Regions from separate parts of the Homo sapiens genome. Here region 1 is linked to region 2. Evidence: fine-mapped expression QTL. Tissue or cell type: tibial artery. Region 2 holds a variant in brackets; the other region holds the start of a gene. All regions are shown on one strand. Distances are from middle to middle.

What was found. PIP is the estimated chance that this variant, and not a neighbour inherited with it, causes the effect.
Region 1: it holds the start of THOC5, and the variant in region 2 is fine-mapped to the expression of THOC5 in tibial artery (GTEx, PIP above 0.99). The same link has a PIP of 0.9 or more in aorta, atrial appendage, breast, esophagus mucosa, esophagus muscle and fibroblasts.

What each region holds. Positions count from the first base shown.
Region 1 is chr22:29,550,993-29,555,992 of GRCh38, forward strand. It overlaps THOC5 (THO complex subunit 5), which reads right to left and starts at 2,765. Exons shown (of 20, transcript NM_003678.5): 1 at 2,679-2,765. NIPSNAP1 (nipsnap homolog 1) reads right to left here. Exons shown (of 10, transcript NM_003634.4): 10 at 3,816-5,000. The coding sequence ends at 4,943. RefSeq lists enhancers at 888-1,587, 2,985-3,682, 3,066-3,135 and a silencer at 2,476-2,665.
Region 2 is chr22:29,528,857-29,534,112 of GRCh38, forward strand. It overlaps THOC5 (THO complex subunit 5), which reads right to left. Exons shown (of 20, transcript NM_003678.5): 8 at 2,975-3,107; 9 at 306-383. Among named protein-coding and RNA genes, the nearest start is that of THOC5, 22 kb to the right of the region's middle. The variant T/C (reference allele first, on the strand shown) is at 2,859.

The DNA of each region.
Region 1 (5,000 bases), 22 kb after region 2:
ACAAAATCTAGCCAGAGTTTGTTAACAATGATCTAGTTGCATTATATTAACTATATTAATTTTTACCTTCTACATAAAACAAGTGAAAGCAGCTTTCCATTTCTGGTGGAGAGATTTCAAGTTTTCTCTCAAAGTAAATTTGAGTTTAAAAAGTGACTTGGCTGGGCGCAGTGGCTCAGGCCTGTAATCCCAGCACTTTGGGAGGCTGAGGCGGGTGGATCACCTGAGGTCAGGAGTTTGAGACCAGCCTGGCCAACATGGTGAAACCCCGTCAGTACCACAAATACAAAAATTAGCCGGGAGTGGAGGCGGGCGCCTGTAATCTCAGCTACTCAGGAGGCTGAGGTAGGAGAATCACTTGAACCCAGGGAGCAGAGGTTGCAATGAGCCGAGATCGCAGCCACTTCACTCCAGCCTGGGCAACAGAGCGAGATTCAGTCTCAACAACAACAAAAAAAGTGACTGGGCCCAACACCATGGCTCACACCTGTAATCCCAACACTTTGGGAAACCAAGGCAAGCAGAGGTGAGAGAATCGCTTGAGCCCAGGCGTTCAAGACCAGAGTGGGCAACAGAGCGAGACCCCATCTTTAGAAAACATTTTAAAATTAGCCTAGTATGGCGGTGCACACCTGTGGTCCCAAGCTACTCTGGAGGCTAGGGTGGGAGGATGGCTTGAGCCCAGAAGTTCCAGGCTGCAGTGAGCTATGATCGCGCCACTGCACTCAGTCTTGACAACAGAGATCCCGTTGCAAAAAAAAAATTTGGACTGGATTAAAAATTTTTAGTAAACCCCTCCCCCTCCCCCCTCCCCCTCTCTCCACGGTCTCCCTCTGATGCCGAGCCGAAGCTGGACTGTACTGCGGCCATCTCGGCTCACTGGAACCTCTCTGCCTGATTCTCCTGCCTCAGCCTGCCGAGTGCCTGCAATTGCAGGCGCGCGCCGCCACGCCTGACTGGTTTTCGTATTTTTTGGTGGAGACGGGGTTTCGCTGTGTTGGCCAGGCTGGTCTCCAGCTCCTGACCGCGAGTGATCGGCCAGCCTCGGCCTCCCGAGGTGCCAGGATTGCAGACGGAGTCTCGTTCACTCAGTGCTCAATGGTGCCCAGGCTGGAGTGCAGTGGCGTGATCTCGGCTCGCTACAACCTCCACCTCCCAGCCGCCTGCCTTGGCCTCCCAAAGTGCCAAGATTGCAGCCTCTGCCCGGCCGCCACCCCGTCTGGGAAGTGAGGAGCGTCTCTGCCCGGCTGCCCATCATCTGGGATGTGAGGAGCCCCTCTGCCCGGCTGCCCAGTCTGGGAAGTGAGGAGCACCTCTTCCCGGACCCCATCCCGTCTAGGAAGTGAGGAGTGTCTCTGCCCGGCCGCCCATCATCTCAGATGTGGGGAGCACCTCTGCCCCGCCGCCCCGTCTGGGATGTGAGGAGCACCTCTGCCCGGCTGCGACCCCGTCTGGGAGGTGAGGAGCGTCTCTGCCCGGCTGCCCCGTCTGAGAGGTGAGGAGCCCCTCCACCCAGCAGCCGCCCCGTCCGGGAGGTGGGGGGCAGCCCCCGCCCGGCCAGCCGCCCCGTCCGGGGGGGAGGTGGGGGCCAGCCCCAGCCCGGCCAGCCGCCCCGTCGGGTCGGGGGTAGGGGGGCGCCTCCGCCTGGCCGCCACCCCGTCCGGGAGGTGGGGGGCGCCTCTGCCCGGCCGCCCCTTCTGGGAGGTGAGGAGCCCCTCTGCCTGGCCGCCACCCCGTCTGGGAGGTGTACCCAACAGCTCATTGAGAACGGGCCATGATGACGATGGCGGTTTTGTCTAGTAGAGAGGGGGGAAATGTGGGGAAAAGATAGAGAAATCGGATTGTTGCTGTGTCTGTGTGGAGAGAGGTGGACAAGGGAGACTCCATTTTGTTCTGTACTGAGAGAAATTCTTCTGCCTTGGGATGCTGTTGGTCTATAGCCTTACCCCCAACCCCGTGCTCTCTGAAACATGTGCTGTGTCCACTCAGGGTTAAATGGATTAAGGGCGGGGCAAGATGTGCTTTGTTAAACAGAAGCTTGAAGGCAGCATGCTCCTTAAGAGTCATCACCACTCCCTAATCTCAAGTACCCAGGGACACAAACACTGCGGAAGGCTGCAGGGTCCTCTGCCTAGGAAAACCAGAGACCTTTGTTCACTTGTTTATCTGCTGACCTTCCCTCCACTATTGTCCTATGACCCTGCCAAATCCCCTCTGCGAGAAACACCCAAGAATTATCAATAAATACTAAAACAAACAAACAAACAAATTTTTAATAAACGGTAGTAGAGGTGGTAAGTTGATCTGGCAAAGCCTACAAAGACCGGACCTGAAAGGCTTAAGTGTGGGAAATCCTGACTTTGGCAACACAGTAGAGTGCCTGGCACACCGAAGAGCACGATATATGTGAGCTGTTACCATCACCACCACCCCCACCCCCATCAGGCTACATTACCACAATCAAGAGGCTCCAACGTGAAGCCTGAGGATGCTGCAGCGAACACTTTTCGGATGAGGTAACAGCGCAGCGCCGAGAGGCCGGGGACCGCGGGTAGTGAGGGAGGAGAAGCCGGGTCAGACCCCAGCCCAGGGGCGCCCTTTGGGCGATCAGCACCTCAGTCCCGGAGCGCCCAGCCCCGCCCCATCTCCCAGCCCCACTGCCCTTGTCCCCTCCTCACCTCACAGCTCCAAGAACCTGGCACCGGGAGTAAGCCACTGCCGGAGGCGGAGCAAAGCTTGCCCGCGCACCATAGAGAACCGGAAGTAAGGAAGGGGCGGCCGACCGGAAGCGAGGCGTAGAGGCCGGAAGCTCAGCGCGGAGGCCCCCGAGGGAGGTGGTGGCGTGGTGAGACTGTAAAAACAAAGACACATGCTTCTCGTTCACTGTGCCCAGGGCCTAAGAGAGTGTCCAGCAGCTAGTGGGCGCTCCACCGAGTAGTTGAATTAATGTTGTGTTATGTCCAAGATAACACGAAAGAACCTGGTAGCGCGGCGGGGAAGATTTCGGCGCTAGAGGATTTGCCTGCATAACCTTACTTCTTAATTATTATTTTTACCATAATATGCCACGCCAGTGAAGGCAACAAGTCAGGGAGGGCATTAACCTCATTTTACACTTGGCTTTTTGAGGAGTGCATCACCAGTTTCTCCATTTTAGGCCTGACTTGCCCAGGACAGAGTCACAACTCTAACGCAGTATTTGAAAGCTTCAGGTATTTCCTACCCCTGGCATGAACTGTACAAACAAGGCCCAGGATTTTTTCGTGTAAATCCTCATCTGGAGCTAGTAACACGTGTCCTGAATCCCTGGTTGTACGGGGCCAGTTCCTTCTCCTTCCCAGGAGCAAGGAGGAAAATACTGGCTCTTTTTTATTTTTATTTTTATTTGAGACAGAGTTTTGCTCTCTCACCCAGGCTGAAGTGCAGTGGCGCAATCCCCGCTCACTGCAAACTCCGACTCCAGGGTTTAAAGGATTCTCCTGCCTCAGCCTCCTAAGTAGCTGGGATTACAGGCATGCACCACCATGCCCAGCTAATTTTTGTATTTTTAGTAGAGACAGGGTTTCACCATGTTGCCCAGGCTGGTCTTGAACTCCTGACCTCACTCAAGTGATCTGCCCACCTCGGACTTCCAAAATGCTGGGATTACAGGCGTGAGCCACTGCACCCAACCAGTACTGACTGTTGAGAATAGCTCAAGAACACAGTACCCTCCAGGAGGGTAGATCTGCCATGTGGGACTAAGCCCACCAGCTCTACTGTGCCCTGCCTCAGGCACCTGCTAAAGTTCCTTGCAGATGAAGAAAAGACACTGATTTATAGTAAATATTTAATTGTTTCCATCAGCAATTCCAGCACAAGTTTTCCTGGATGGTAGGCAGAATCAAGCTACCCAAGGGTTCATGATGAGGTATGGGGGTCACTGAGGAGACCCCCAGAGTCACTGACCCCTCCCGCCACCTCCACACACCAGGTGGCCCTGCAGAATGAGGGTTGGGCTGATAGAATGTCAATTAGGGGAGACAGGATACAGGGTGAGGGAACAGGGTCTAGCTTGTATATTTGCCTGCAGGAAGGAGGGAGGGCAGGAGAGACTCTGCATAGAAGGACTGGAACTACACATTTAAGTTTTCAACCCCAATATGCAGGGGGAAACAGCCAAGCCACTCTCCATCTGTCTAGTATTAGGAACCTCTCTTCAAGTGGTCTTTTGTCATCTCTGTTCTTCTTCCCAATTCTGTATTCCAGATTCCAAATTCTACAATTGAAACCCAAGTTCTGAATTCTAAGTTCTACCTTCCGAGTTCCTGTTACGTGTCTGTCTCCTGCCCCTAAATCTTTCCTGGCTCCCATCCCTTTCCCCAGCCCCTCTGGGCAGAATGTCTGAACCTCCTCCTGACCGTGGTGACGAGGTTTGTTTGTATTTGTTTTTTTGTTTTGGCAGTTCCAGGCTTTTCTCCAGCAGGAGGGACTTGGCTCAGACTGTCCAGCAAGTGGGTGGCCCAGTGGAAACCAGGGAATTCCTGAGGGCCTGGCCTGGCCTCCTCTCTTCCCACCCCACCTCTAGCCACTGGACATACTACCTTTTGTGCAACTAAGCTAAACAGAGGATTTCCAAGGGTGATAACTGGGGACTGGTGGCCTTGAGATGAGGAATTTTAGAAGATAAATGAAGGCCTAAAAGATCACTATCTTTCATTCAGGGAAATCAGAAACTACTTCTAGCAGGGGGAGGGAGGCAGGCAGGGAAAGTAGAAAGGGCCTGGGCAGAGCTGTAATCCTCAGAACTTGTCAGCCTTCAGTTCCCCCTTGTCTGAACTGAGCACTGCCCCTCAGAGTCCTCCCAGAGCCAAGACAAAACCAAGACAGCAGGACCAGGAGTGCCACTGTCTGTCGGGGTTGCCTGAGGGAGAAGGGGAAGGAGGTGGAGGTGTAGGCAGCATCACTGCAGAGGCGAGATCTTCAAGGGGATCATGATCCTAGACTCCATGTGTCGCACC
Region 2 (5,256 bases):
AATCCACATAACAATCCTACATGAGGTGTTACTATCTGTTTTCACAAAGGAATAAACTGAGGCTCTGAAATATTAAATACCTTCCTCGGGGTCAGTCAGCTAGTGAGTGGCAGGGCTGAAATCCACGGGCCGCACCTTGTGACTCCGGGAAGTGAGCTCTCTTTCCTGTCTACTCCAGGGTGCTAAGACATTCAAGTCAAGCTTCCTGCTACACAGAACTAGTCCAGCTAGTTCTCCAAAGACCAGGACTGCCCTTGGATGGTGACCTGGTGTCCCTGGGGGACGAATCCCAACCACCACATTACCTTGGGAGTCCTCTGGAGGTTTGAACAGAGCCTTGGCTTCATCCACACTGCCTTCGATTGCCACAGATAACGTCTTATCTGGGGGGCAAGAAGAAGTCTGTTAGGAAAGCTGCTGAGGAAAGCTGCTAAGCAGTGTGAGTAGGCCAGCTCTGGGGCTGCATTTCTCCCACCTCTGCCCAGCTCCTTGCTGACTAAGGGTGGAAGGGCAAAAGTCCTTGCTCCAGATGAAGGGAAACAAGGTGGGACACTTAAGCTTTTTTTTCCGTCATTTACTGAGAACAGAGAACTTAAGTACAAATTCCTAAACCAGCATCACCTGAAACTAGCAGTGAATGCCTCTCTTTTTTGGTGCACACCAAAGCACAGAAATTCAAACTGAGGGCCTAAAGCCACATGGAACTCCTCTGCCAGTTGTCTTAGAGGTTCTCACCCAGAAATCCACACCTGTCCACATCCCAGAAACAATGACTCTCACCTAAGTGCTTATTCTCTATTCTACACTATACCAAGCACATGGCTGCCATTGTCTCACTTAACTGGGAGGCAGTAGGACAGTGAATAGGAACTTGGATCTTGCAGTCCAGTTCCAGACCTGAGTCCCTGCCTAACCAATTCTCAAACACATGACCTGGAAAGTTATGTCACTGTCTGAGCCTCAGTTTCTGTATCTATGAAAAGGGGACTTGAAAAATAGTAGCTGCCGGGTGCAGTGGCTCACACCTGTAATCTCAGCACTTTGGGAGGCCGAGGCAGGTGGATCACCTGAGGTCAGGAGTTCAGAGACCAGCCTGGCCAACATGGCAAAATCCCGTCTGTACTAAAAATACAAAAATTAGCTGTGTGTGGTGGCATGTGCCTGTAACCCCATCTACTTGGGAGGCTGAGACAGGAGAATTGCTTGAATCCAGGAGGTGGAGGTTACTGTGAACCAAGATCATGCTACTGCACTGCAGCCTGGGCAACAGAGTGAGACTCTGTCTCAAAAAAAAAAGAAAAAAGAAAAACAGTAGCTGCCCCATTAGTGGTGGGGACTGAATGAGCTGATGCTTGTAATTTTAATTATAAAATTATTAAAAATTAATTTTTAGGCTGGGTGTGGTGGCTCATGTCTGGTTGGGAGGCCAAGGTGAGTGGATCACCTGAGATCAGGAGTTCGAGACCAGCCTGGCCAACATGGTGAAACTCTGTCTCTACTAAATATATAAAAATTAGCCAGGCACGGTGGTGGGTGCCTGTAATCCCAGCTACTTGGGAGGCTGAGGCAGGGAGAATTGCTTGAACCTGGGAAGCAGAGGTTGCAGTGAGCCAAGATCATGCCACTGCACTCCAGCCTGGGCAACAGAGCCAGACTCCATCTCAAAAAAAAAAATTTTTTTTAATACTCACAACAACCCTACAGGAGTAATACATTATAGCCATTTATAGATGAGAAACTTAAGGCTCAGAGAAGCTAGACATCACAGCTATAAGGCTGATAAACCAGGATTCAAGACCAGGTCTGTTCAACTTAAGCTTGGCCTCTCCAGCACATGAGCTAACAGCCTGTTGCATACACCAGGTATGACACCTCATTGAGTGATGTCTTGAGACCCCCTCTGAGGGTCTAGCGTTGTGAGGTCAGACAGGCCACCACCGTCCAACTCCATTCTTAAGGGTACATATGGTCCCAAGAGCCTGAAACGGTTTGCCTAGCCACACTAAGGAGGGATGGCAAACTTCCCCCAAGTGGCTGACCACTGCCTTATCTATGGCAACCCTATGTGAATCACCACCCTTCACCCCAAGCAACTAGTTGCTCCCATCAAGCACTGGCAAACAACAGACTATTTTTTTCAGCCATTTAATATTAGCATTCTACAAGAACATCAGAATGGAACAGGCCGATTTTAAACATAAAAGAAAAGAAAATTACTCACCCTGTCTAGGGGGCTGGGAGGATTTCATATGAGCTGATGATGGAAACAGGAGGGAGAACAAAGGGGAGGGGAGGACCAGAAGGACGAGGAAGACACAAGAAGAGACAGTAATGTGTTGGTGCCCAAGGTGGGAGGAGAAGCAAGCACTGGTGCGGTGTATGTCTGTCTGATGAGGTGGGGTGGGGTGGGGGAGAAAATGTAGGTGCTGGGTGAAAGCTGCATTAGGGCAAAAGGCAGAGTCTCCAAAATTTTCTCAAAACCCTAGCAGAGTCACAGGCTGCCCTCAAGCTTAATGAGGACATATCATCTAACCTGGAAATTCACAACAAAGACATGCAGCCTGATTCAAGGCATGGTGAAAGCCTGGGAGAGCTGGCTGAGACCTGTATTCACCAGGCACCCCCACCCTGAAGCAGAGCAAGAGGCACTGATCTAACTGCCAAGCGTGCCTTGATGGGGTGAGCACCTGGGAGCCCAGACAGGCTGCCTGGGTTCTGCACCCAAGAGCTGTCCAGCCAGGCTCACGAATGACTCAAAGCCACCCATTGTGAAATACCCATCAGGTTAATCCAGCCTTAGGCCAGCTGGTCAGAGCAGCCATGCTGGGCAATGCAGAGGGAAGAAAGCTTCTGTCACC[T/C]GAGGGCTTCGGGCAGGACTGAGAAATTTCCTGAGCAGGTACTGCTTCCAACTGATTCACTCGGCCACAGCTGCTGCTCCCATAGCCCCTTGTCCTCACCCAGGCCCCATACTCACCACAGGCCTGCCCATACGCAGTGGCCTGAACAAAGAGGACATAGAGGGGAGGCGGCAGGTGTCTGGCTGTCTCATACTGCTTGTGAGCCTGGTCGAATGGCATAAACAGGTACTCCTGCACCGGAAGGGAAGCCTGCACACAAGAGACAGATTTTTGTTCTTCCTTTTTTAGCCAGTCCACACAGGAAAAAGTGGCTACTTAGTGACCGTAAATCATTATTTATAAAAGTGATACATGATAAACTAATAGAACTAATAGGTGGATAAAAGCTCAACGTAAACAAAATTATATTTCTTTATACTAGCAACAAACAGTAAGGAAATAAAATTGTTTTATTTTACCTACTGTCAGGGCACCCTGGCTCATGCCCATAGTCCCAGCACTTTGGGAGGCTGAGGCAGGAGGATCACTTGAGGCCAGGAGTTCAAGAGCAGCCTGGGTAACTTAGCGAGATGCCATTTCCACAAAAAATAAAAATCAATTTAAAAAAAGAAATTATAAAAAGATGCCATTTCAATACCATCAATAAAACATCAAATAAGAATAAACAGGCCGGGCATAGTGGCTCACGCCTGTAATCTCAGCACTTTGGGAGGCTGAGGCAGATGGATCACCTGAGGTCGGGAGATCAAGACCAGCCTGACGGACACAGAGAACCCCGTCTCTACTAAAAAAAATACAAAATTAGCTGGGCGTGGTGGCATATGCCTGTAATCCCAGCTACTCGGGAGGCTGAGGCAGGAGCATCACTTGAATCCAGGAAGTGGAGGTTGCGGTGAGCCGAGATCATGCCATTGCACTCCAGCCTGGGCAACAAGAGCAAAACTCTGTCTCAAAAAACAAACAAAAAATAATAAACAAGCAGGCTGGGTGCAGTGGCTCATGCCTGTAATCCCAGCACTTTGGGAGGCCGAGGCAGGTGGATCACCTGAGGTCAGGAGTTTGAGACCAGCCTGGCCAACATGGTGAAACCCAATCTCTGCTATAAATACAAAAATTGGCCAAGTGTGGGGGCACGCACCTGTAATCCCAGCTACTCCAGAGGCTGAGGCAGAAGAATTACTTGAACCTGGGAGACGGAGGTTGCAGTGAGCCAAGATTGTACCACTGCACTCCAGCCTGGGCAAGAGAGCAAGACCCTGCCTCAAAATAAAACAAAATAAAATAAACAAATGAAAGGCATATAAGCCTCTACACAAAAACCTGAGAAATGAAAAGTCTAAAATAAGTGGATACATGTGAATGTCAATGGCCTGGAAGACTCAAATATTGTCCAGGTAACAATTTATTCTAAAGTGGTCTGCAGATTCAATGCAATCCCTGTCAAAATCCCAGCAGGTGAAAACAGACAACCTGATTCTGAAACTTGTATGTAAATGCAAAGGGCCAAGAATAACCAAGACAATCCTGAAGAAATAGGTTGGAACTGTGCATCGAGACTTCTGATAAAGCCACAGTAAATAAGACAGTGTGATACTGTGCAAGGATGGACACAGAGATTATACACATATCCACATGTACAAAGACATTTGATTTGTAACAAAAGTGGCACTACAGAGCAGTGGAAAGAGAATGTCTTCAATAAATGGTCAGCTAAATACCTATGTGGAAAGAAAAAATGAATCTTTACCCTTAACTAACAAAATCACTTCCAGGATGACAACAGATTTAAATAGAAAGATTTCTTAAACAAGACACAAAAAAAGTACTAACCATAAAGGAAAAGAATAATTAGTAAAATTAGGAACATGCACTCATTAAAAGATACCATTAGCAAAGTGAAAAGGCAGGAGGTTACAGAATGGGGAAGACCTGGGAAAAAACTCATCTCCAGGCAACCCAACAGAAAACAGGCAAAAGACTTGCCTAGACCCATCACAAGAGGTTATCCAAAAGGCAAAATGTGCTGTGTTCAACATCACTAGTCCTCAGGGAAATAAAAATTAAAACTATAATGAGATACCCTCCAGAGTAGCCAAAATTAAGGAGACTGACAGTATAAAGTGTTGACAAGGATGTAAAACAATTAGAACTTGCATATGGTGCTGGTGGGAATTTCTGTAAATCGGTACAACCAGTTTAGAAAACTGTTTCAGTGTCTACAAAAGCTAAATATATGTATAACATACTGTATGACCTAGAATTTCATTCCTGGGTATATATTCAACAGACAGATGTACACATGTATGCCAAAACACATGTATAAGAATGCTCATAGCAGCATTATTGAAATGGCCCTAAACCGGAAACAACCAATTACTAAACATCAATGAAAACAAAC